2 separate regions of the Homo sapiens genome follow, and region 1 is linked to region 2. The links come from fine-mapping of genetic effects on gene expression. Tissue or cell type: whole blood. Region 2 holds a variant in brackets; the other region holds the start of a gene. All regions are shown on one strand. Distances are from middle to middle. Region 1 holds the start of NSUN2 (NOP2/Sun RNA methyltransferase 2). Region 2 overlaps NSUN2 (NOP2/Sun RNA methyltransferase 2).

Region 1 (12,379 bases), 26 kb after region 2:
AAATTCTATTTCTTAGTCCTCCACTATTTTCAGACATAGCCCATGCCCACTTTCTATTTCTCATAACTACCTTTCAAAGAGATGAAGACATCAACCACTGCTTCCATCTTTCCATCTTTAGACCTTCAATATCTAAAATTCCTCACCACACTCCCTGCCCTCTGTCTTCTCTAGTCGGCCAGGACATCTGTTACAAGGCAGAACTATTCAGGTGCAGACAAAATCCTCCTGCCCTGCCCAGCACTAGCCTCAACCACACCTCTACTTTAATCGCCTTGAAGCTGAGGCTTCTGCTCCAACACAACCCTACAAAAGCTGGGACTTCTGGAAATGAACAGCCACCCAGGCATCCATCACTCACCTTAAACTCAGGCATGTGACTGTCAAGAGCCTTAAATACAGGCTTTTACACTGATGGCTGCTAATTTTCACCTCATGGGTTTCTGGCCAGCATGAGTCTGTGGTGATTCACTCACTAGGCACACTGATTCCAAGCTTTTGAGTTATACGTGTGATCCTGATATGCCTGCCTTCTGTATCCATCCAAGGTTTTGATTAAAGCATTAAGTAAGATGGGGACATCCCGGCAGACAGTAACCAGATTCATGACCACCCTGTGTAGATGTTTTGTGGCCAGCTTTCCATAACCCAGAGGTTATTGCCATTCATCTCAAGAGCTCTCATCACGCTGACTCCTAATCAAAAACCTATACTAGTTCCCTACAACATTTGCTACCCACCCTAAACTCCCATCTCCTCCATCTTCCAAACATGCCAAAACCTGGCTCTTCCAACCTATCCATGTGTATCACACCCCACAAACCCCACGCTCTCTTCCAAGTGCAAACCTGAGCTGTTCTCTAGCAGCTTACTGATCTCTATTTGGCCTTCCATCTAGATTGAAAGTTGAGCAAGAGAATCCTTTCGTGCACTGGTCTCAAGTACGAAATGGGGTTATGTGGCAGCACTTAGTTCCTGGTTCTTGTTACTATTCAGGAAGGAAAAGCCAGGCAGACACAAGCCCAGTTTAGTCGGTTACTTAGATGACAGAAGGCCAAAGTGAAAAAGAACCATAATCTGGTGACACACAGATTTACTAGAAGGTAGTAGTTTAGAAAATAGGAAGGACGAAACCTCTGATTTTAAATGTGAGACTAAGAATTCCAAAAAAAATACCCAAACTTTATGGGCATTCATTGAATTATTTAGTACATAAGCAAATAGCTGTTTTGCTGGGGATGCTCTGATGCTAAAGGTAAAAAGCTCAGCACCTTAACTGCACTCAAGGAATGTGGGTGGCTACGGAGAATGTGAAGACAGATGCCGTCCTGTGAGGACCAAAGCTGTGCTTAGGGGTTTTGTGGTGCTTAGGTGTTTTGTGGTTACCAAGAGCAATGTGTGGTAAGAAAAAAAAAAAACACAGTAAAAAGTAAAATCAAAAGCTTCATTTTTAGTAAAATAAATCAATTTTAAAAAACAGAACCAAAAACCTATTCCCTACCAAGATGGCCTTAAAAACATACTACTTTTTATGTACAACAGGCATCTGAAATGTGTACCTAAGAAGGAAATGAGAGTGCAGTGCTCACCCCAACCCTATAGCCATCCAAATACACAAGCAAGAGGAAACAAGAAATTAACTAGCTGGCATCGATATCCTTACTAAATTTCATGACTAGATAAACCAAACAAGGCAACGGATATACAAATAATCAGAAATCACAGGTGGTGCACACACTGCAGTTGTCTTTACTGTGTGTGATGTCCACCTACTGCTTCTAGTGACAAGAACCTAAAAACAGAACTACACTACATCTATGCATTTACAGCTTTAAGGAAACTAGCAAGTCTAAAGAAATCAACTTACAGATTCTGTTTCACTAACTAGAAACTGATGAAACTTTTCCAAGTGTGGCGATTTTCTCAAGATTTTTCGACTTAAATTTGTGTGCCAGGCAAGTTCTTCAGGATACCTGACCAAAAAGAAAGCAAAACATTTATGGATTATAAATACTAAAGTCGTCTGTTGACAACTTTGTGCTTCTATCAGTCGCATGCCAAATGAGACTTCGAATGTTGTTCTCCCTGCTCCTATTCACAATCCTCTACGGACAGTCAGCAACACTCAGAGATGTCGCTGTAGGCTTAAGGAACATGGCTCTAGCTACACCGTGGCCCAATCAGAAACAGGAGAGCCATGGGGGTTACAAGATTATGCATATTACTGTAAAATTATAATGATGAAACGCTCGAGATCAGATGAAAAAGCGGACACTCCTCTGCTCTTCACCATTATAAGGTAACAATGGTAAGGTCATCAGAAAAAAAAGATACAAGATGACTTACTTAATGTGCAGATCACACAGAATCAAAATAATGCAGTGTCAGAGTGTCCCACAAATACCTGATTAGTTTTTTAAAAAATATATTTTTCATTATTTCTAACACCAGTTCAATAATGCACTAAAATATTTTACATACCAAAAAAATCCTACCTTGGAAACCACTAATGCATTAACTTGAGCTCCTAGGCTGTTACCTATATATAACTAAGAATAAAGCATTTCCTGCCATCATATCTGTGAATATATTTGAACTTTCTATAAATGATGACATCAATGTTATTTTTATTTTTTTTATTTTTTTTAATTAGGGGAGAAATGGGGGATACTAAAAACACTGCCTTTTTTTTTTTGAGACAGTCTCACTGTCACCTAGGCTGGAGTGTAGTGGTGTAATCTCAGCTCACTGTGACTTCTGCCTCCTGGATTCAAGTAATTCTCATGCCTCAGTCAGCCACCTGAGTAGCTGGGATTACAGACGTGTATTTTCAGTAGAGATGTGGTTTTGCCGTGTTGGCCAGCTTGGTCTCGAACTCCTGGCCTCGAGTGATCCGGCCGCATCAGTCTCCCAAAGTGTTGGGATTACAGGCATGAGCCACTGTACCCCACCCAGGATGTGCTTTGAAACTTGGCCTGCACCTATACAGGCATCTGCACCGTACAAATGAGCACACTGATGTCATGCAGCACCATGCTCAATCCAATGCCAAACCAAGTGTACCACGTCACACGGCCATAAATCTTAGTGTAGTTTCAGCAATTCTCACTAAACCTGAGATGCAGTAATACACTCAATTTAACAATGCAGGCTCACAATGTTTCCATGCGTCAAATTGTAGCTAGAGTGAAAACCATGAAAATAAAACTGGAATGTCTGGAAAACACAAACACATTTGACTGCTTTTAAACTCTGATTTTTTGATGGAAACAAACTCAGGACTTAAAAGCCCGACACTGCTCAAGTCAAAATATTACAAAATATACCTGAAAAGCATTTTCTACCAAATAATGAAGACGAAACTGGCTGAATCTGTCCACGGCCACCCTCCAAAGGTCCCCAGCGCTTTGATTCTATCTCATATAGCCCAGTTCCCTCCTCGACATTTAATGTGTTCAAAAATATAAAGCCAAAAGAAAATCATATTCATAAGGCAATTTTAAAAAGAATTGTTTTAAATAATCTTTTGGACTCATTAGAGGCGAAATAGTAGGTTACATGCAAATTTGGCATTTGCTATAGTATTGGGCAAATATCTGCTGTGCCACTGTAACCTCTACTTGCAAACAGCCAAATGCCAGCTCATATAGTATCTGGTCTTCCTGAACTTGTCTGTCTCAAAGCTAGTACGATCATGTAAGTTATTGCCTTACCAAATCACTAAGACATCAATATGAACACCACATGCCATTTAGACTTATTGTAAAGAGCTGAATTTTCATTTTCAAATATAGATAAGCAGTCTAGATATACTTTGAACAAATATAGCCTTATATGTCTTTTTCGTCAAATTTCTGATAGTCAAAATGTAAACGTACTATTACAAGATTAAAATTCTACAGTATTTATAATTGTGAAGGCTGTTGATCTCATGTAAAGAAACATTTAGGAACTCTGAAATATTTAAATACAAACAGAAACTAACAGATAAATGTTTATTTCCTCTGGGTACAGAGAACAGCCTGGGCAACAAAGCGAGGCCCTGTTTCTACAAGAAATGTTTTTAAATTATGTTTCTTATACAGCTTTAGGAACAGCATCATCTTTTTATGAACCAAAAAATGTTTATTAAATCTTTGTAGATTTTAACATCAAACAAAATGAGAGGTATATTTAATTTTTAGTTACTTACTTCAAATTTAGCTTGTGTCTTTTAAGAAAAAATCCTATTTGGGCTTTTTAGAGGATAAGTTAAAAGGACCACTGTCATCTTTGCATATTAAAAATTCTCAAGTGGTAAGGACTCTGTAAATATATACAACATCTATGACAAACCATCCTCAATCTAGACATTAAAAAGCACGTAACAGGCGAGGTGCAGTGGCTCATGCCTGTAACACCAGCACTTTGGGAGACCAAGGTGGGCGGATCACTTGAGGTCAGGAGTTCAAGACTAGCCTGTCCAACATGGCAAAACCCCAACTGTACAAAAAATAGAAAAAATAGCTGGGTATGGTGATGGGGGCATGTAATCCCAGCTACCTGGGACGCTGAGGTGGGAGGATCACCTGAGCCCAGGAGGTGGAGGTTGCAGTGAGCTGAGATCATGCCACTGCACTCCAACCTGGGCAACAGAGACCTTGTCTCAAAAAAAAATATAAGTAAACAGCACATAAATAGAATGATAATAAGGTGCACTCTGAACAATTGGTTGTCAAAACAATGCTTCTATAAGAATGCTTTAGGATAATTTCTCATTGTTCTGAGTCTATGGAAAGTAAGAAAAAAATGAAACTGGCCCAAGCTATGGTCCTATACATAACTTTCCTTCTAGAAAATGTAATTTCAAAAAACGTTTTCCTAAATTATATTTCACTATGTACCAGAGGATTGGGAAGAATATTACATGATCTATTCCTGCATCTTGAGCAATACAGAAAATTACCAGAAGTCCTGGAAAGCTTCTGCTTTACTTGCTTGCTGAGAGATTTAGTACCCTAAAACTGACAGATGAATTTGAATAAATAAATGTTTAGAGAATACAGCTGCCAAGAAACTGGCATTGGCCAGGAATGGTGGCTCATGTCTGTAATCCCAGCACTTTGGGAAACCAAGGCAGGAAGATTGCTTGAGCCCTGGAATGCAAGACCAGCCTGGGCAACAAGGTGAAACTCCATCTCTACAAAAAAATAAAAAAAATTAGCCAGGCGTGGTGGCATGCACCTGTAGTCCGAGCTACTCAGGAGGCTGAGGTGGGAGGATCACTTGAGCCTAGGAGGTCAAGGCTGCAGTGAACCGTCATGACATCACTGCACTCCAGCCTGGGTGACAGAGTGAGACCCTGTCTCAAAATAAAATATAGAGAAACCATCATTGATAATGGAAAAAGCCAAATATTAGAAACCCAGATCTACAATGTTTTGTTCATACCCTTCAGCTGTGTGTTCAGAAAATTAAAGCAAACAAAAACATAGCTGGCTGTTGGCAGAGAGCAATTCACCTTCATTCTTCAACTACAGACAACCTGCAGATTCTAAGAGTTTGGTAATTACCTTGTCATATACCCAGACACATTGTTAAACAAGGTGGAAAAGCAGCTATGAAATGTTAAAAGGGCTGATCAAATCCAAGTGTAACTGTAGTTTGCAGAGAATAATAAAAAACTAGCAAGCCTTATTGACATCGTATGGTTTCTCCTAGTTTGTTGGAGCCTGCAGAAGAAAATGCCCACATGGAGGTGCCTTAAGAGCACACCTCTTCCCTATAGACACATGCTGAAACGTTCCTCCTGGACAGGAACTTCTTCATCTTAAAAGCATTTCTTATCCCGTCTCTGCGCTTCTAAACACAAGGTTTTAGAAACAAATGTTTCCAGGTGATTGTGTGAAGCAGCACATACATGCATCACTGCTAAAAATACAAACATGCCCGAGGAGAATCGTAATCCTGTCTTCTTAAAATATTTTAGATGGTTTGGCTCTGTGTTCCCACCCCAATTTCACCTTGAATTGTAATATTCCCCACGTGTCAAGGGCAGGACGAGGTGGAGATAATTAAATCCCCGGGCCGTTTCCCTCATGTTGTTCTCACAACAGTGAGTTCGTTCTCAGGGGGAGATCTGATGGTTTATTAGGGGCTTCTTCCTTTGCTCAGCACTCATTCTCTCTCCTGCCACCCTGTGCAGAGAGATCTTCCGCCATGATTTTAAGCTTCCTGAGGCCTCCCCGGCGATGTGGAAATGTGAGTCAATTAAGCCTATTTCCTTTATCTATACATTACTCAGGTATGTCCTTATAACAGTGTGAAAATGGACTACTACAGTATCAGACCTCTACTTCAAGTACAACACAATCAGTGTCGTCAATCAAATCTTCAAACCAAACGACTTGAGCAAAGTCTACAACCTAGTTACCAGGAGGAAGAAAAGCTTGATCTCGTGAAGGTTACCTCATCTCAGCAATGCCATAACTAGAGGCTGAAAAACATCTACCTTTTCCACTGATCTCACTACAGTGGACAATTAGTGACCACTAACAGCAACGTAGCACCCGTATCATTTTCCTATACTGTACCCTTCAAGCTTTTAAAAATCTAAGATGTGGCATATCTATTCTTTTTTCCCTTTTTGAGACATGGTCTCGCTCTGTGGCCCAGGCTGGAGTGCAGTGGCATGATCTTGGCTTACTGCAACCTCCACCTCCTGGGTTCAAGCGATTCTCATGCCTCAGCCTCCCTAGTGTCTGGGATTACAGGCGTGTGCCACCATGCCTGTCTAATTTTTGTATTTTTAGTAGAGATAGGGTTTCACGATGTTGGTCATATTTATTCCTATATCCCAGCAACACATTCCATGATGGTGATATTCGGTCTTGATACTGGTTGAATACTGACTTAATGTTTGGCCAGTCAGCATTCATTGTGAATGTATATGCTTATCTGTGATAGGGACAATGAAAATCCAAATAGCCAATGAAAGAAAAACAAGCAAATCTGTACCCCATGATTAATGAAAATCTGACCTTGATTTGCGAACACTAAAGGTTATCCAAAAAGGAAAGATAACACTACGTACTGGAATAGTCAAAACCTCAAAAGTTGATGCAAAACGCTTAATTTGGCAGGGCGCAGTGGCTCACGCCTGTAATCCCAGCACTTTGGGAGGCCGAGGTGGGCGGATCATGAGGTCAGGAGATGAGACCATCCTGGCTAGCAAGGTAAAAACCCGTCTCCACTAAAAATACAAAAAAATTGGCCGGGCGTGGTGGCGGGCACCTGTAGTCCCAGCTACTCGGGAGGCTGAGACAAGAGAATGGCGTGAACCAGGGAGGTGGAGCTTGCAGTGAGCCAAGATGGTGCCACTGCTCTCCAGCCTGGGCGACAGAGTGAGACTCCGTCTCCAAACAAACAAACAGACAAACAAAAAACGGCTTAATTCACCTTTTCGTGCATTACTTTTCTGAGAACTCAATACCTCAAAGTTAATAATAACGACTTTCCCACTTATGTAAGTTAACTGAAGGACTGGCGCCTCCGGAGTTCTCCAAGCATCTTTACAAGATGCTATCAGCACAAGGGATCACCTTCATACAACTGAGACTAGAACCGAGCCATGAGGAATAGGTAACCCAGAAGGCACCTCCAGGACAGGTCAAGAAAGAGGTAGCTCCCAGAGTAGTAGCACGCTTGGGTGCTGAGACTCGGAAATGCTACATTGGCTGGTGCAGTCTGTACTGCGAAGTACCAGGAGACAACCTGACAGCAGACAGTGGTAACCTGTCTGTAATGGAAAACACTAAGAGACTACCTACCAGGAGACTGTTGTCAAGCTAAGTCTGTCCTTTTTCTGAAGGCAAAGCAGCCACTCTGCAACAGTTTTGATGTGAGAAAACAAGGGCTGTAAAAGGGAGCTGGCGGAAGTGGTGACATAAAGGAAGAGGCTGGATGTACTAGGAAGAGCTGGCTGAAATCAGTGACTCATAAAGCTGCAAATCGCAAATCGCATGAAAACTTGCGTAGCAATATAATGTTGATAAAAGCACCAGGTACTAGAACATTAGGATGTTTGCAAAGTATACCCAAGCTCTTTAACAGCAAATGCAGTACCAAGAAATATAATTCAAGTGATAGAGATTAATATCCCAAATAAATATTCGGCATGAAGCACTGTGGTACCTACCAACTCAGTGGCTGTGGAACTTCAACTTTCTGACCGTCCACCTCCAGGTCCTCCAATTCCTTAAAATATTTGTTCTTTAAGCAATGGAGAATCTCTTTTGCGTGGCTATTGAAAAATAAGGAAGTTTCAAACTGATCTAAAAAACTAAGTTAATACATTGTATCTTCTTAAATTTAAGACTGCAAGTGTTTTAAAACTAAAACCAACTTTTGCATGGAGAGTAAACATTCTTTAGTCACTACTTTTACACTGTATGCCTTCAAAATTTAAGCAATCCACACTGTTTGAGCCCTAAGAGCAACACTGCATTCCTTCTCTCCTAAGCATATCCTACCGTTAAGTTTTACTTGCGACTCATTTAGAAAGATGTAACTACAAAGATGGAGGGGGGGCGCGGAGGAGGGGAGAACCAAGGGGTTTTATGCATTCTCTATAAATTCTCTTACGTTCCAAAAGGTAAGACCCTCAGCTTCCCTCCTGGAAGATTCCCCAGGAGCCGAATCTTCCTCAGATCTCATTTTCATTTCGTCTTCTAACCTTGCGCCTGCAATACCTCCGTGACCATTTCATTGGACCCTGTGCTCCCCACCTCAATGCTTCCTGAATCCAAACCGCTGAAACGCCACGGTTCTCTGGCACTGTAACACTTGTCGAAGAAAACACCGTCGCCTTTAACCTCCAGCATCCTGGCCCCAACTCCCAAAAAATCAGGCACTGCCTCCCTACCTTTTGTAACCAGTAATTCTTAAAGTGGCCGGGAGCGGCTCCCTGAGAGCGTCCATGAACTGGCCCCACTCGCCCTCGGGCACGATCTTGAGCTCCTGGTAGTAGTGCTCGAACAGCTTGTTCTCCTTGACGATCTCGGGGTAGCCTCCTTCCCAGCCCTGAGGAAGGAAAGAGACGTCTACCCCGAGGCCCAAGGAGCCGCCCCCTCGCCGCCGCCTCGCAGGCCTCGGGGTCCGGGAAGCCCAGGAGGAGCCCCTGGCCCGCCCGCCGGGTCCCGGCTCCTACCGCCTCGCCGCGCTTTCCACCACCCTCGGCGCCATCCTCCGCGTCCTCCGGCCGCTGCTGTTGCTGGAGCCGCCGACCCCGCGACCGCCGCCCCATAGCCCACGCGGCCGCGCACGCAGCACGCAGAAACCGGCCCGCCACGGCCAGAACTCTAGCCCTACACCTCCCGGGACTTCCGGCCGGAAACCAAGGCCCCACGTGTCCGGGCCTGGTCCTTTCGGGGACCTTTGGGGACCGTCCAGGAATAAGCCCAAAGCGCACAACCCGTCTTTCAGAAAAGCGGCGTGACAGGGAAAACAGCGAACAGCTCTAAGGGGAAAAAAATGCTCCAGGAAGCAGCCACAAAGGCGTCTCCGCGCGAAGCGCCCAGGTTTCCCACGCGGGCTCAAGGAGCTCCGCGGACAGCCTGAAGCCGCGCGTGCGCAGAGCGGCGCGGGGTTACTGCGGCCCCGGCGTGGGTGGGGCGCTTGCAGGTCCCTCCCCGCGCAAGTGCTCGCCCCGCCCCCGGGGCCGCACCCACAGCCCCGGCTACCCCGGAGAAGCCTGACTTGAGAACCCTTTCTGCAGAGTCCCGGCAGTGCGGGACTCCGGTAGCCGCCCCTCCGGTAGCCGCCCCTCCTGCCCCCGCGCCGCCGCCCTATATGTTGCCCGCCGCGGCCTCTGGGGCATGGAGCACGCTGCCCAGCCCTGGCGATGGCAACGGCGACGGGGGTGGCGGAGGAGCGCCTGCTGGCCGCGCTCGCCTACCTGCAGTGCGCCGTGGGCTGCGCGGTCTTCGCGCGCAATCGTCAGACGAACTCAGTGTACGGCCGCCACGCGCTGCCCAGCCACAGGCTCCGAGTGCCGGCGCGGGCCGCCTGGGTGGTGCAGGAGCTGCCCTCGCTGGCCCTGCCGCTCTACCAGTACGCCAGCGAGTCCGCCCCGCGTCTCCGCAGCGCGCCCAACTGCATCCTCCTGGCCATGTTCCTCGTCCACTACGGGCATCGGTAACGTCCCCGGCCCCCGGCCCCCTACCCTACTCCCGGCCCGGCGTCCTCTCCGACCCTCCCCTCACTGCCCGGTGCCCTCTCCCCGAAGCCTCCCCCACCCAGATGCCCTCTCCCTGCCAGATCCCCCGGGGCGTCCCCCATCTGCACGGGTGCCCTTCCCCGAGTCCCCCGGCCCCGGGAGTTTGGAAACCAGAAGGGATTCGTCTGGAAAGGGCGGGAAACAAAGGACTGGAAGGGAGTGATGGAAAAAAACATGATGAAACTGATCTGGAAAGAGCCACTCAGTGGTCCTAGGTTTGGTTTCCTTAGCCGGGCGCGGTGGCGCCTGTCTGTGATCCCAGTTACTCGGGAGTCTGAGATGGAAGAATCGCTTGAACCCGAGAGGCGGAGGTTACAGTGAGCCGAGATCTCGCCACTGCCCTCCAGCCTGGGTGACAGAGCGAGACTCTGTCTCAAAATTAAATATATAAAAATAAAGAGTTAAAAAGTAAAAATGTAAAATAAAAATGAAGACTAGATTTTGTTCCCTTAGATCACGACTGTGGGGGCGGGGGGGAGGGGGTTGGCCTAGAGTCTAATGCTGATGGTCGGTCTTGAGGGCCACTGGTTTCTACTCCTTTCTGCCGGTTCCCCTTTTGGTATCTTTGGTGATGGTGGAGCTGTTTTCTCCCAGCCAAGTGATCAGCTGCAACTGGAAACCTGCTGTCCTAAAACTGCCTAGCAGTTTCTCCTTATAGGCTTGATCACTTTCAGAGACTTTCATGTCCACCTTATGCAAGGGACCCCAGGATTGTGGGGGTGGAAAGCCAGCAACCTTAAACCTTAAACAAACGAAGTCTTAAAGATGACTTCTAAATCTTTCAAGGTTTTTGTTTTTTTGAATATTTGAAAACTGGCTGTGTCTGAAATCTTCAAGCCTTCTAATAAGTTGGGGTTCTCTCCAGGTCGTATCTTTTGGCTTTTACACAGCCAAAGCAAACGACAGGTCGAAAGTTCAAAATTAAATTTTAAACGTTTTCATTCAGGCTCTGGAAAGCTTCACAGTTAAAAAGGATGTCTCTACACCCAAGGAAGTTGAACTCACTGGCTGTGTGACTATGGGCAGTTTACCCAACCTTTCTGATTTGGGGTCCCACCTTAAAACACTCACTTCCCAGAGAGACAGGAAGAACTCAGTGTGTGTTTATAAGCCTCTCTTCTTTCTCCTGGTGTCATGCATTCCAGCGAAGAGAAAGTACACAGCTCCACTACTTGGAACCAGTGTTGTACCCAGCACAGTTTTTGGTACCTGAGTTCCCTGAAAACCAGCACCTTACCCTGTAACTGGTGCAGTCTGTGTCCTCAGTGTGCTTTGATGACTTGCACTTTAAACAAGGGCAAGTCAACATTCATCAGAGGCTTAGTGAGTACTGTGTGCCTGAAACTCTTTACCATTGCTTTATTTTTTTTTTGGAATGGGATCAACCATTGCTACAATTTGAATATTAGTCAGACTTTGCTGTTTGTATATACTTTTCCATAAATATACCAGAAGCTGTATGTCTGTTTCTTTATGGCTAAAAGCAATCTCAGGTCAGAGTATTCGGTGCTATCCTAGTCCCATCAGTCATGACCCTGGATGAGTTACTAAGCTGCCCCGCAGCAAGGTTTCCCCACCTGTAGAATGGGCATGGTGATGGAACCCCCCTGTGGGATCACATGAATTTAGAGCAAAGGCAACTCCCTAAAATGCTTGCATGGTGCTGGCGCATCTGCGTGCTCAGTACACAATACCTAGCACTATTTTGCATTGCTGTGAATGCACATCCAGACATGTACTCTGTGTGTCATTCATGTGCACTGCTGCCAGCCTCATGTGCCAGCAAAACTGTGGTGTTGGAAATCAAGGGAACACTTGACAAAGTTTTGCCTGACATCCCAAGTGGAAGCTTTTTAACTTGAGACATCATGTTTCATTGTACCTACATTCACTCAAGCAGAAAAATGAATGCAGCCTCCCAAAGGGCCAGAGTCACCTTGAATGATAGAACTTGAACAGCTCATTCATACAGAGTAGAACACGGAGGCACAGCATGCTGCTGTCTTCCCTGAGGCTGTTGGATAAGGAGCTGCTGGGATGAAAGCCCACTTCCTATACTAATAGTTTAAAAGCTGCTCCAAGAGGATTGGCTGGGTCAGGTATAGTTTTTTTTTTAAATTGCTA
Region 2 (12,187 bases):
GCTCAGGCAAATTATCAAGAAATACTAAAGCTGGCAGTTAAAAGTTTGATGAGAGAGAGGAATATAGTCTTGAAATGTCTCCTTGCACAATACTTACAAATTTTTCAGTGGAGAAACTTGGCAGACAGATACCATGTTACTAATAATAAAACAAACTTCACCACCACTATAAAGAGAAAACCCAACATCGTCAGCCTCCTGGCATGACGCAGCGAGAACACAGCACCACCTCTGTGGTCCTCCTGTCAAAAACGCACACATCACAGGGACACTTCAGACCAACCAAAACTGAAGCACATTCAGACTACCTGACCGGTACCCTGCAAGACTGTCTCAATCATAAAAGACAGACTGGGAACTGTTTCTGACGGTAGTGAACTCGAGACAAGACAGCCAAAGGCAACTGGTGTCACCCCAGACAAAATTGGACATTGTGACTGCAAAGGACATTACTGGGCCGCTGGAGCGAGCTTGCTGGTTTGAGGGTGACCTGCATCCACGTTTCTGACGCCTATGCTGCGAGCTGTAAAGAGGGCCTCTGTTTCCAGGAAACACCACAGGAGCAAGGGGGTAACGGAACACGTCTGTAACTTACTGTCAAAGGGTTCAGAAAACAATGAGTGACATGCAAGCACACCAGAGGATGCAAATGCAAATGTAGAGAAATGTTCAGTGGAGAATGTGGGCGAAAGAGAAATAGGAGCTCTTCACGCCACAGAGCTTGAAAGTATTCCACAGTGGAGACTCCAGAGACAAATCCACCAAAGGCAGTGTGTGGTCGGTGTTTGTACAGACCAACACACAAAATGAGGTAGACAGGAAGACAGCAGCCTTCACAGTAAAACCGCTTTCACTAGAGAAAATAAGGATGTATTCTAACACTGCCATTTAGCCAAAAGTAAGTTTGTTCTTTCTGCTTCCTAAGAGCAAAAACAGGAATCACACATGTATATATTTTATCAATTTTATTGAAATATTCCAAGGATCCCAACCCCATTTAAAAATAAAAATTGTAAAGCACTCCATTCAATAAAAGCACATAAGTCCCCCTCAATAATTAGTATGACAATTCACGATACAGCTCTTACTCTGGGAGAGTTTATTTTACCCTTTATTCCAAAAGGCACAAAGTCATCTGAGGCCTCAGATATTAACCCCACTGCATGTTAATGACACACCACTGAGGTGCAGCTCAATGTAATTATTAAAGCTTATAACACACTTCCCCAAGAATTTATAGATTCTTTCTATAAATAATAATTTAAAAAATACTGCACCTTAAGACCAATACAGGCTTAACAAAAGACCTGAAATTTCTGCAAGGGCAGTTTTGTTTCTTGATAGAAGTACAACTTTTGAAAGTCTATTCCCAGCAAAAGAAACACTAGACCCAGCTTGGCCAAAGAAACAAAATAAAACAAGTGATTTCTAACACGCTAAAAGAGTACATTTTCATCAGCTCCAAAGAAAGCAGTCCTGGTCATTCAGAAGGCTCCTATGATCCCACCAGTCTGCAGTCATTAGAAATATATGCTTTACAGGCCACAGGCTGCTCTGGATTTGGTTTCAGACACCAGTGACCAGAAGAAGCCAGTTTTGCGTGTGAGGGGTGTGGGCCCCCGCTGCCTTGGGCCTGCTCACCGGGGTGGATGGACCCCCGCCGGGTCACAGCCTGCTGTCACGTCTGGACTGTTGGCCTCTTCTGCATCTGGGCTGTTGGGCTCTCCTGCTCTCTGTCCCTCAGTCACGTCATTGTCTGGCTGTCCGGTGCTGGCTGCACTCTCATTTGTGAGGATAACCCCTTCCTTCTTCTTTTCTCCCAATACCTCCAGCCCCATCATCCTGAGATAATGAAGCCGTTCATTCTTGGGCACAAAAGTTCGAATGGAGGCCTTTCCCCGCCATCCGCATAAGACGATGGGACACTGCAGAGCGTCTGGATTCCTACAAGTGAAAGTGGCTTCATGTAGAACATTAAACATTCCCATAACTAAATCGAATGAGATGTAATATGCAACTGCTTAAAAAAGAAAACCACAGAAAACCCATACCCACAAAACCCCCAAAACTACTGGGAGGACATTTCATCTGGATCCGAGGGGTAGGTTTTCTCAAAGGACTTCCTTCTTCATGTCCTGAGTAAAATTCTCACCCTCGCTTTCGCCCTGCCTCTTTAAGTTCACAATGGAGTAGAGGCCCCAAATCTACAGATTTCACATACACTTTCTACATACTTCCTTCTCAAACTTAACTTACTGTCCCCGCCACCCCGTGTCACCTCACCCCACTAAATGAGAAGCGTTTCTCCACAGGCTCCCTGCAGCTCACCTCAAGTTTCCTAAGTGGACTGAAGCTCCTGAGAGGCTGGGAGACTCTGCCCTTAGCAGGGCGTCAGAGCAGGACCCAGGACCACCGGGAGACTCTGCCCTTAGCAGGGCTGCCAGAGCAGAACCCAGGACCACTCATCCTTTTGATACTCAGTGTTAGCGTGATTTCTTCTCCAGGGACCCCACATGGCAGTCTGAGCCCTGCTGGGCACACAGTGCTCATTTCCGTTCCCAGCATGCAGTGTTACCCACAGTCAAAAACATCCCTGCCTCTCTGAACATGCTCCGAGCCTCCCTACCTTCCAGGCTCCACCTGTCCAGCCAGGAGGCATCGACGCCCCAGCAGAGATGGACGCCACCATTTCCAACCTGCACACGCCCTCTCTCAACTTATCTGATTTCTTTCATACGGGACTCTGACCTAGATTTTAGGCTCCTAACGGCCGTGTTTAATCACCTTTCCATTTTTCCTAATGTAAAGCAGGGGCACAAAGGTGGTTTTAAGAAGTGAGAGGAAAATATAAGAAATTCCCAACTCCCATCTTCTTAAAAAAAAAAAACCATTATTCCTGAAGTTGACCTGTCACCTGTGTATTTCACCAAGTAGAAACAAGTGTTTAAATATGGAAAAGTGAATCCACACCTTAAAATATCCCAATATTTTCTATGTGGGCCACATGGGACTGTTATTTTAAAAACCATTTCTGAGTCTTTGTTCAAACTCTCGTTAAAAACACCCAGAAGCCATCAATCACTAGATGCTCCTGCCCGTTCACCATCCAGACACCATCCGCCTCCAGCAGGTCCCCAGGGTGCTCATGCGCTCGGCCTCGCTGACCTCTCCAGCCCATCCATCTGTTGTTCCCTCACCAAGTTCCTGCCCCTCCCACCTCAGCCCCCACCTGTCCTCTCTCCACATGGCAGCCGGACAGCCTGAACCCTGAGGACATGTGGCCCCTCGGCCTCCCTGCCAACCTCTTACCTATCCCTCCTCCTTCCCTACTTGGCTGGGCCCGCCCCGACCCCCAGCTTGCACCTGCCTCAGGATCTGCGCTTTGGTGGTTCCTTCAAGTTAGCACTGGATCCCTGGTCCAACACTAACTTCCCAAAGAAATCTGTACAGTGGTTCTACCTATTCACTCCCCCAAATCCCAGTCAGCCGTGGACCCCATTCTGTTTCCTCCTCTCAGAAATGGTGTTGCATGTCACCAAGACGGAGCTGTTGCAGGTGAGATCCGAATTCTGCCACTCGTGAGCTGAGGAGCTCTGGGCAAGCCACCTAACTTTCTGTCCCGGCTTCCTCCTCTGGCAAGTGCTGCCAAAACCAGCACCTGCTCCCCCAAGGCCCCCCACAAGGATGCAGCGTGAATACATGCAAGCAGCGTGGAGCAGTGGTCCCGTGGGGACCGTGAGTGCAAGCGTGAGCAAATCCCATGCTCCGGCCCTAGCACTCCTGATGCAGTAACATGTCAGCAACACACATGGCTGAACCAGCCATGAGGACAAAAGAACGGAACCTCACTCAACTGTCCAATCTTCACACTTACTCTGTACAAGACAGAAATTTTCATTGGTTTCTAATGCTTAAAAAATAAGTACTATGCATTTTATTCTCTGTAAGTAAAAATTCACTTAGCCTGAGCTGAGTGTTCTATGAAACAGCATCTTCATGATGACCTACAGGAATATTTTGGTTCTGAAGTTTTCACAAGGCTACTTCTGAGGAACAATCACAAAAGGCCTGAAGAAGGTTCCCACCTTCCCAAGTCACTTTCCTCACCAACGAGAACACTGTAGCTAATGACAAGGCGTGTGTGTCTAAGGGCAGGGCGTGTACTGACTTACGCAGAATCTGGTTCATACTTCAGCACGATGCTTCCCTTTGCTGGAAAAGAAACAGACACACATTTGCCAGGTTTTCCAGGTAGTGGATGCATGCGCTGAGCACATTTCTGCACCTAGTGATGTGTTAAGTATTCTGAAGAAAGAAAACAACAAATAATCTACATTCTTGGCTTCAAGGATCTAGATGGTGAAAAGAGGCCGTCTGGATACATGAACCAAGTCCAAATGACGCAGTAGGGACGATCTGGAAGAGGACCCAGGCAAAAGCCATTCAGGGACTTCAAGGGATGTCACCTGACAATCCACTCTGAGAAGCAAGGAGGCTGGGGATTAACTGCTGGTTAATTCTTCAAAATTCAAAATTAAATAAACTATAACACCAACTCCCAGAATGGCATGAAATACATAAAAATTGTCTAAAACAATACTGCAATCATCTAAGTGCAGGATTAAAAGAAAACCAGTATAAACAGGTCCTTTATCCTTTACAAGAATCTCTACTTTAAATTGTGGTTCTTGCCTGGAGACGGCAGTGGGAGACAGACTCCACAGAGCATGTTTTATATCCCAAAGGAACCACACGAGTAAGTTTTAAACGCAAGTAAGAAACGTAACTGCAAGAAGTGATTCACGTACTTTTGATCAAATTGAGCCAAAAATATTAAACAGCAAGTTATTTAAAAAAATAAACAAGAATGAAGACAACAGAAAGAAAATTAGAACAGCTTGGAGAAATGATTTTTATGCTTAGGGGAAAACGTCACTGGAGTGATCTGAAGTGGAAGTTGATGAAATATAAAAGCAGCAATATGACCAATAATCTACTCCAGCTGGCTAGCAGAAAAGTCAGAACTGCTGGCAAGACTCTTATTTTGCTCTAACACAGGTGATTAAAATCTGCATGTTAGCCAGTCTCGTGAGGCTGTGTACCTTAAAAAACAAATTTACTGGCTGGGCGCGGTGGCCCACGCCTGTAATCCCAGCACTTTGGGAGGCTGAGACAGGCAGATCACAAGGTCAGGAGATTGAGACCATCCTGGCTAACACGGTGAAACCCCGTCTCTACTAAAAATACAAAAAATTAGCTGGGCGTGGTGGCGGGTGCTTGTAGTCCCAGCTACTTGGGAGGCTGGGGCAGGAGAATGGCTGAACCTGGGAGGCGGAGCTTGCAGTGAGCCGAGATCGTGCCACTGTACTCCAGCCTGGGTGACAGAGCGAGACTCTGTCTCAAAACAAAAAAAGAAAAAAACAAATTTGCTCATGCACAGAGACCTGCTTCCACCCACCCCCGACCTGCTGACAGGCAAGTGGGTCAAGAGCTCTGGCTGGGAGGCTTGCCAGGGCTGCTCACAGGCTGACCCCTCCTCTCCCCGGACTCTCTGGCCCAGCAAGGTGAGCAAAGGCCAGCCCTGCACGCCACACAGACACACCACAGGCTGCTGGGCAGCAGCAGGGCACCACCAGAGCCTGGGGAAGTACACCAACCCCAAGATGCCTTTGACCCTTAGCATTCTGAACTGTCAATCAGGGATCTACAGAACCCTCTGGAAATTGATGTAGCCATAAATAAACTGAAAACTATGATTGATAAATATGCCCCAACGCACACCACCTGCATTTTTGCTGGCCTTATAAAGGGAATACAAGTTATGTCTCTATGCATTTCCAACTACTCACCCAGGTCCTTTGCTTGACTGTAGGTCTCACTGCTGAGTTTTCTAAAAAAGGGATTTTCCTGGGTCAACAGTATCTTAACATCTTCCATTGATACAGTAATAATTCTTGAGTTAATAAATGGATACAATGTATATATTCCCTGTGTGAATAAAGAGAATGAGAGAACAGATACCATGATGTCATTCATGAACGACAACAGCCTGCTCTCAGGGGCTATGCTCTTAGCGGCTATGGTGGTCGAGCCCTCACTATGGCCCCTCCCCTTGGACAGGTGTGGAACCCACCCCCCCCTAGGAGGGGAAACCAGCACTCTGGGAGAGCTCTATAACCTGTGAGGGTCAAGTGGCTGGTAGGTGCCAGCCAAGCCCTGAGCCACTCAGACCATCTGGCTGACCAGCAAGCCCATCTACTCCCGACTGCTTCAGTCATCTGTGGCTACTGCTGTTCAAATCCACTTCCAAAATTACCTCCTGTGCCAGCCGGAAAGCACAGTCAAACTCTTCACCGCTGTTATTTCTACACCAGACTTTGATCCCCGTGTTAATAACCTGTAAGTAAAAAAATAAGATGAAACACAGAGAGATGAAGACAGGACCATCTCCTGTAAGGATGCCGGGCCACATGGAGCAACCGTCACGGAATGGGAAAGGAGAGGAGAAGCAGAAACCCACCGAGAAACCCCGGTTAAGAACGAACTGATACTCACAACTTGTGATTACGTCGTTTGGAGGACAGTAAAGCAAATGAAAGAAGGGCCCCCAAATGGCCAAATTCTAAGGGAAGTACCTCAAAGGACAAATCCCAAGGGTCGGGGCAGCAGTACTCGCAGCCTCTACACCTTTAGTACCTTCTCTGCCCAGGAGGGCGAGCTGTGAGAACTACACCATGGCTCACCCCCCTGCGGGAATGGGGCACAGAAAAGACACAGGCCACCAGATTCAGGACTCTGGCAGGAACCATTCAGCCCTGTGTCAGTCAACAGCTCTGAAATCAAAGGGCAGGCTCAGGGACCCACAGCCAGCGCTACAGGTGGGGAGGGCAGATGTCACGGTCTGCTCCAAATGAAATCTAAGCCGCTGTGAAAAGCCACACGCATCCCGCATCACACAGCACTCAGCGTCTGTGCGGCTGGCACCTTCATCTTCTCACTGTTATTCAGCAGCACATTCCGCAACTCCTTAGAAACCATGTAGAGCTGCCTTTTCTTCCCTTCTGTAGTCCGAGTTAACAAATTCATCCTTGGGAATGAAGGATCCAAAGCATAAAATTTCCTGTACATAACAACATTG[T/C]TGTTTATCCACAATGAGTTCAAAATCTGGTAGACTGTTTCTAAACATCTTATTCTCCTCCTCCAGAATTCAATCCCCAAAACTGCAGTGTGGTTCAAGGGCACTGGGCTCTGCTCTGGACTCCAGCTTCTAAACTTCATCCACTTCCACCTGAAACCTCCACGTAACATTTATTTGGGGCACAACTCCATCAGAAACCTAAATTAACAAGTGCAGCTTCTCTCCCTCAGCCGCTACTCCAATGATAATGACCTGATAACACTACTTTTGAGACTTTTTTTTTTTTTTTGATATGGAGTCTTGCTCTGTCTTCCAAGCTGGAGTGCAGTGGCGCAGTCTCAGCTCACTGCAACCTCTGCCTCCCGGGTTGAAGCGGTTCTCCTGCCTCAGCCTGAGTAGCTGTGATTATAGGTGCACGCCACCACACCTAATTTTTTTTTGTATTTTTAGTAAAGACGGGGTTTCACCACATTGGTCAGACTGGTCTCAAACTCCTAACCTCATGATCTGCCTGCCTCAGCCTCCCCAAGTGCTGGGATGTGCCCGGCTGAGACTTATTTTTTAATAGACTTTTACAAATGTATGCAAAGGACCAGTTATTAAAAAAGACAGTAAGTGACCGCCCTGGTAAATAGATTCTAAAATTCAATGAATAAGAAACAGATGAATGTCAGACTTGTCCTAAACCCTTTTCCTCTATATTCTGTCTATGTCATCCCTAATTAGCCCTCACCCATGCTGCTCTTCATTTCTTCTACAGAAACTGAACTAGACAACCTTGGCTACTCGTCTATATACTCAATTGAGTAATTTAGGTTCAGGATCACAACTAATTTAGATTCATAATCACAGTCCAGTTTTCTTTTGTTTTTTTTGAGACGGAGTCTCGCTCTGTCGCCCAGGCTGGAGTGCAGCGGCGCGATCTCGGCTCACTGCAAGCTCCACCTCCCAGGTTCACGCCATTCTCCTGCCTCAGCCTCCAGAGTAGCTGGGACTACAGGTGCCCGCCACCACGCCCGGCTAATTTTTTTTGTATTTTTAGTAGAGACGGGGTTTCACCGTGTCAGCCAGGATGGTCTCAATCTCCTGACCTCGTGCTCCGCCCGTCTCGGCCTCCCAAAGTGCTGGGATTACAGCCGTGAGCCACCGCGCCCGGTCCAGTTTTTTTTTATCTATCATGTTCACAAAGTAAAAGTTTACTTTCTCCTTAAATTAAAAGATTGAGTAACCTCTAAAGTTTCATCCTGCTCTAATATGCAGTTAAAAAGGTTAAAAAAAAAAAAAAAGCTAGACAGAACTACATACAAAACAATGGTTACATGTGATCAGTTGTACATTTGATACTCTATAGTAAATTTCTTTAAATGAATAATTAAAAAGGCTGAATCCTTACTCAATAGGTGGAAATAATGGGTCATCTTCAGGAATAAATACAAATGGATCTTCTTTAAATCCAAATAACTTCATTTTCTTTGATGGAGGAGGACTAAAAAGGGAATCAGGATGAGACAAATCAATCTGTAATGTGTGGTAACCTTCAATACCAAAAGCACATTCTTCCTTTCTGTCAGTTCTGTGCAACATGGAACGGTTTGCGGCAGATGTTGAAACCTTCCGGCTTCCACAGAGTCCAGCCCTCACACTGCATGTGCCTGATACCACACATGTACTGCCCCCTCAAACCGACCAAGAAGTGGCTCTGGGATCCCATTTAATCCAAAAGGACTGTGAAGACACCAGCGTATTAGATCAAGACATAACCACTTTTCTTACCCACACACGCCATCTTTCTTACTGCCATTATTCTCTAAATCCTCAGTTGCATGAGCTATTTCTGTGTCACCAGTTCCTGTGAATGACGGACTTTCCAGCTTAGAGGGATCTGTGGGTTTCCCTTCTGTGAGATCTGCAGGGCTCAGCTGTGTGCTTTCTCTGGTCTCTGCAGATTTACCCTGAAGCTGTCATAAAGAACAATTTCATTGACACACAAAGAGGAGCATTCTTTGTGCTGCTACGAAAAGTTAAAAATACCACGTTCACAAAATCCATCAGTTATATTTTTCTACAGCATTATATGTAGAGAAAGACAACAGAATTTTTTTAAAGTGTCATTTTAAATCTACTTGCTATTATAAACAAAATTCATGGACAGTTTCTTTGGAGTTAAAGCTGATTCTACCTTAATCCCACAAAGAGCATATACAGCCTGTTCCTTAGCAGAGGCCTACACCACCAGCTTGTTCTCGTGTAAAAATGCTTATCGTGCATCTGCTCTGGGTAAGGCACACTGAAGGACACAAAGTGCACCAAGCACGATTTCTAAAATACCCGGCAGGGGCAAAAAGACAAGTATATAAATAACGAGAAAGGAGGGTATGAATTGTTCTTGGGCACCTGGACAAACTGCCACAGGAACTGGGAGAAAGAGAGAGTGCCCCAGGCACCAAGGAAACACCTGCCAAAGAATGAACTTCTGAATTAGGGCCATGGTATAATTTAAATTTGGCTTTGGGAATGAGCAAAATGTTTTACTTAAAGATCTTTAAAAAATACATGTCCTTTTTAACATTTTAACAGGTCACAAAATTGATAAAAGTCGTAATTCCTCAGTCCCTATGAAGTAAGTTTAAAAATTAGGATATTTCAACACAGGCAAGTTCATTTTACTCAGAGCCACAAAGCTACTGAGCAGAGAAGCCGGGAGCATCCCAGGGAACACCTTTTATTTCCATGTTAATATAATGTAAAAAAGCAAAAACCAAAACAGATGAACCCCAAGCCTGTGAGCAAGTCAGTGAGGGCACACGCCCTTCCTGTCCAACCTCAGCTTCCCCCAGAGGGGCCTTCTTGTTGAGTCCAGCTCCAAGGGCATGTTCTCCCATCTCTGTTCTACCTCAACAACCTCATTCTGGGACCTTCAAATACCAAGGTCAGTGTGAGCTTCCCTGGCCTAACTTCTAGCCAAGTGCTTACAGGCCTCAGCACCACAACAGAACACGGCATCCTGACCATGGAGACTCTACCTGCGTTCCCAGTAGGACCAACAGCAGCACAGGCCATGCTAGCACTAGATCTGTTGAACTAAGTGAATAAGAAACTGACATAGTAACAGAAAGAGAGAAGTATTCATATTATTTAAACGAGAAAATGACAATAAGTTGTTCTAAAAAGTAAGACTATACATAAGGGGCTAATTGAAAAAATGTCAAAACCTTTCTATGTAAGTATTAACACGTCAGAAACATCAATGTAAGCCCTAATGCAGGCCAACCTAAAGCACGCGTCTCTAAGACAGGCTCCTCTGTGACTGCACTGTGCTCTGCAGCTGGGCAGCCACAAGCCTGTGGTCACTGACCACTTAAAATGTGACAAGCGCAAAGTCTAAAACACAAGCTACTGAAACCTAGTATGAATGAATGCAAAGTATCTAATACTTTACAATATAATTTCTTATACTGATTCCATGAAAATAACATTCCATCAGCGTTAAGATACCTTGTGAGACTTTTAGCCTCAAAGTGAAATACTTTCTAACCTGACAGAAAAACCCTGGTGGCGGCAGAAGTGCAGTCGCCCCCTTTGCCCGTCTGAGGCTGTACGTTCCAACGTTAAACTGCACAAACCGTGCCCCAGAAAAAGGCTGGAGCTCTTTGCGGAACTGTTTCCTTTTTGTTCCTCCAAAGCTAAGCGTTTTTTGTCCTAATTTTCAAGCATGGATCTTAAAGAAATACAGACTTCCAGACTTTGATTCCAGGCCAGGTTCTTTCATCATGGAAGGCTGATTTATGAACTAATAAATAATGCTGGCGTGATACAGGTGAGACAGCACGCATTACAAAGGACTGCGTGTTAGGATGAGGGCAACACTCCTTCACCACTGTTTCCTGGCCTGCCTTGGAAAGGAACCAGCAGGCAGTTTAGATCCATAGCAAACAGGCCGGGCTGCATCTTTCTAGCCAGGTCTGGACAAGGCCGTCATCATTCCTTGCAGCCAAGGTGAACCCGGGCTGGCTTGGGGTCAGCAGAGCTCTGCTATCTGTAATTGGTGAAATGAACCACTCACAAGGAACTAGAGCACAGAAACCTGGGGCTTCCAATTGAGAGCCACAGAGCAATCTTTCATGTCTTTTCAATTTTTATTAAATAACTGGATTTACAGTGTGGCAGGAATACATTCCCCCAAACACTGACTTCTCCACTTACCTATCACCTATGAGAAATTTCTGCTTTTTGGAAAACTTGATATTTAAATGAAATTCCCCCTCATTCAGGGTCAGCTCTCCTGCTGCCCACAGCAAGAAGCTCCTCTTTCCTCTGTACTTCTACTAAACTCCGGTTAGTTTTTGTCTTAAATGTACAAGATCAAATGTTATGTCATTTTGGAAAAAGAAAAACTCACCTTTGGCTGACGTTTATTCCACGGCATTGAAGATTTTTTCACCAATACTGCCACAAAAAACCCTCCAGTATTCTGATGATGGGGTAATATCCTAAGGCTAAATATATATATATAATTCACACCTCTGAACTAATCAAAAATGCATTCTTTTACTATTAAGACAAATACCGCAAAGATGATACAAGAGAAAAATCATGTCTTCGACCCTCACTCATAGAATGGCCAATATGTAAACTTAAATTTTTTTTTTTTTTTTGAGTCAAGGTCTGGATCTGTTGCCTAGGCTGGAGTGCAGTGGTGTGATCTCAACCCACTGTAGCCTCCGCCTCCTGGGCTCAGGAGATCCTCCTGCCTCAGCCTCCCAAGGAGCTGGGACTACAGGCATGCAACACACTGCCTGGCCAGTTTTTGTATTTTTCTTTTTTTTTTTCTGTAGAGATGGGGTCTTGCCATGTCGTCCAGGCTGGTCTCAAACTTTTGAGCTCAAGTGATCCATCAGCCTTGGCCTCCCAAAGTGCTGGGGATTACAGGATTGGGCCACTGCACCTGGCCCACTTTGTAATCTTTAAAAAGTTCATGACGGCTGGGCACAGTGGCTCATGCCTGTAATCCCAGCACTTTGGGAGGCCGAGGTGGGCAGATAACCTGAG

What was found.
Region 1: NSUN2 starts here. The variant in region 2 is fine-mapped to the expression of NSUN2 in whole blood (TOPMed, PIP above 0.99). The same link has a PIP of 0.9 or more in aorta, blood mononuclear cells, breast, cerebellar hemisphere, cerebellum and esophagus mucosa.

What each region holds. Positions count from the first base shown.
Region 1 is chr5:6,623,697-6,636,075 of GRCh38, forward strand. It overlaps NSUN2 (NOP2/Sun RNA methyltransferase 2), which reads right to left and starts at 9,348. Exons shown (of 19, transcript NM_017755.6): 1 at 9,188-9,348; 2 at 8,903-9,060; 3 at 8,177-8,281; 4 at 1,868-1,973. The coding sequence starts at 9,283. It overlaps SRD5A1 (steroid 5 alpha-reductase 1), which reads left to right and starts at 9,744. Exons shown (of 5, transcript NM_001047.4): 1 at 9,744-10,173. The coding sequence starts at 9,881. RefSeq lists enhancers at 9,444-9,955, 9,956-10,467 and a silencer at 9,591-9,980.
Region 2 is chr5:6,598,289-6,610,475 of GRCh38, forward strand. It overlaps NSUN2 (NOP2/Sun RNA methyltransferase 2), which reads right to left. Exons shown (of 19, transcript NM_017755.6): 12 at 11,538-11,634; 13 at 8,912-9,096; 14 at 8,532-8,624; 15 at 6,985-7,120; 16 at 6,317-6,397; 17 at 5,850-5,988; 18 at 4,173-4,212; 19 at 951-1,944. The coding sequence ends at 1,638. Among named protein-coding and RNA genes, the nearest start is that of LINC01018, 22 kb to the left of the region's middle. The variant T/C (reference allele first, on the strand shown) is at 7,139.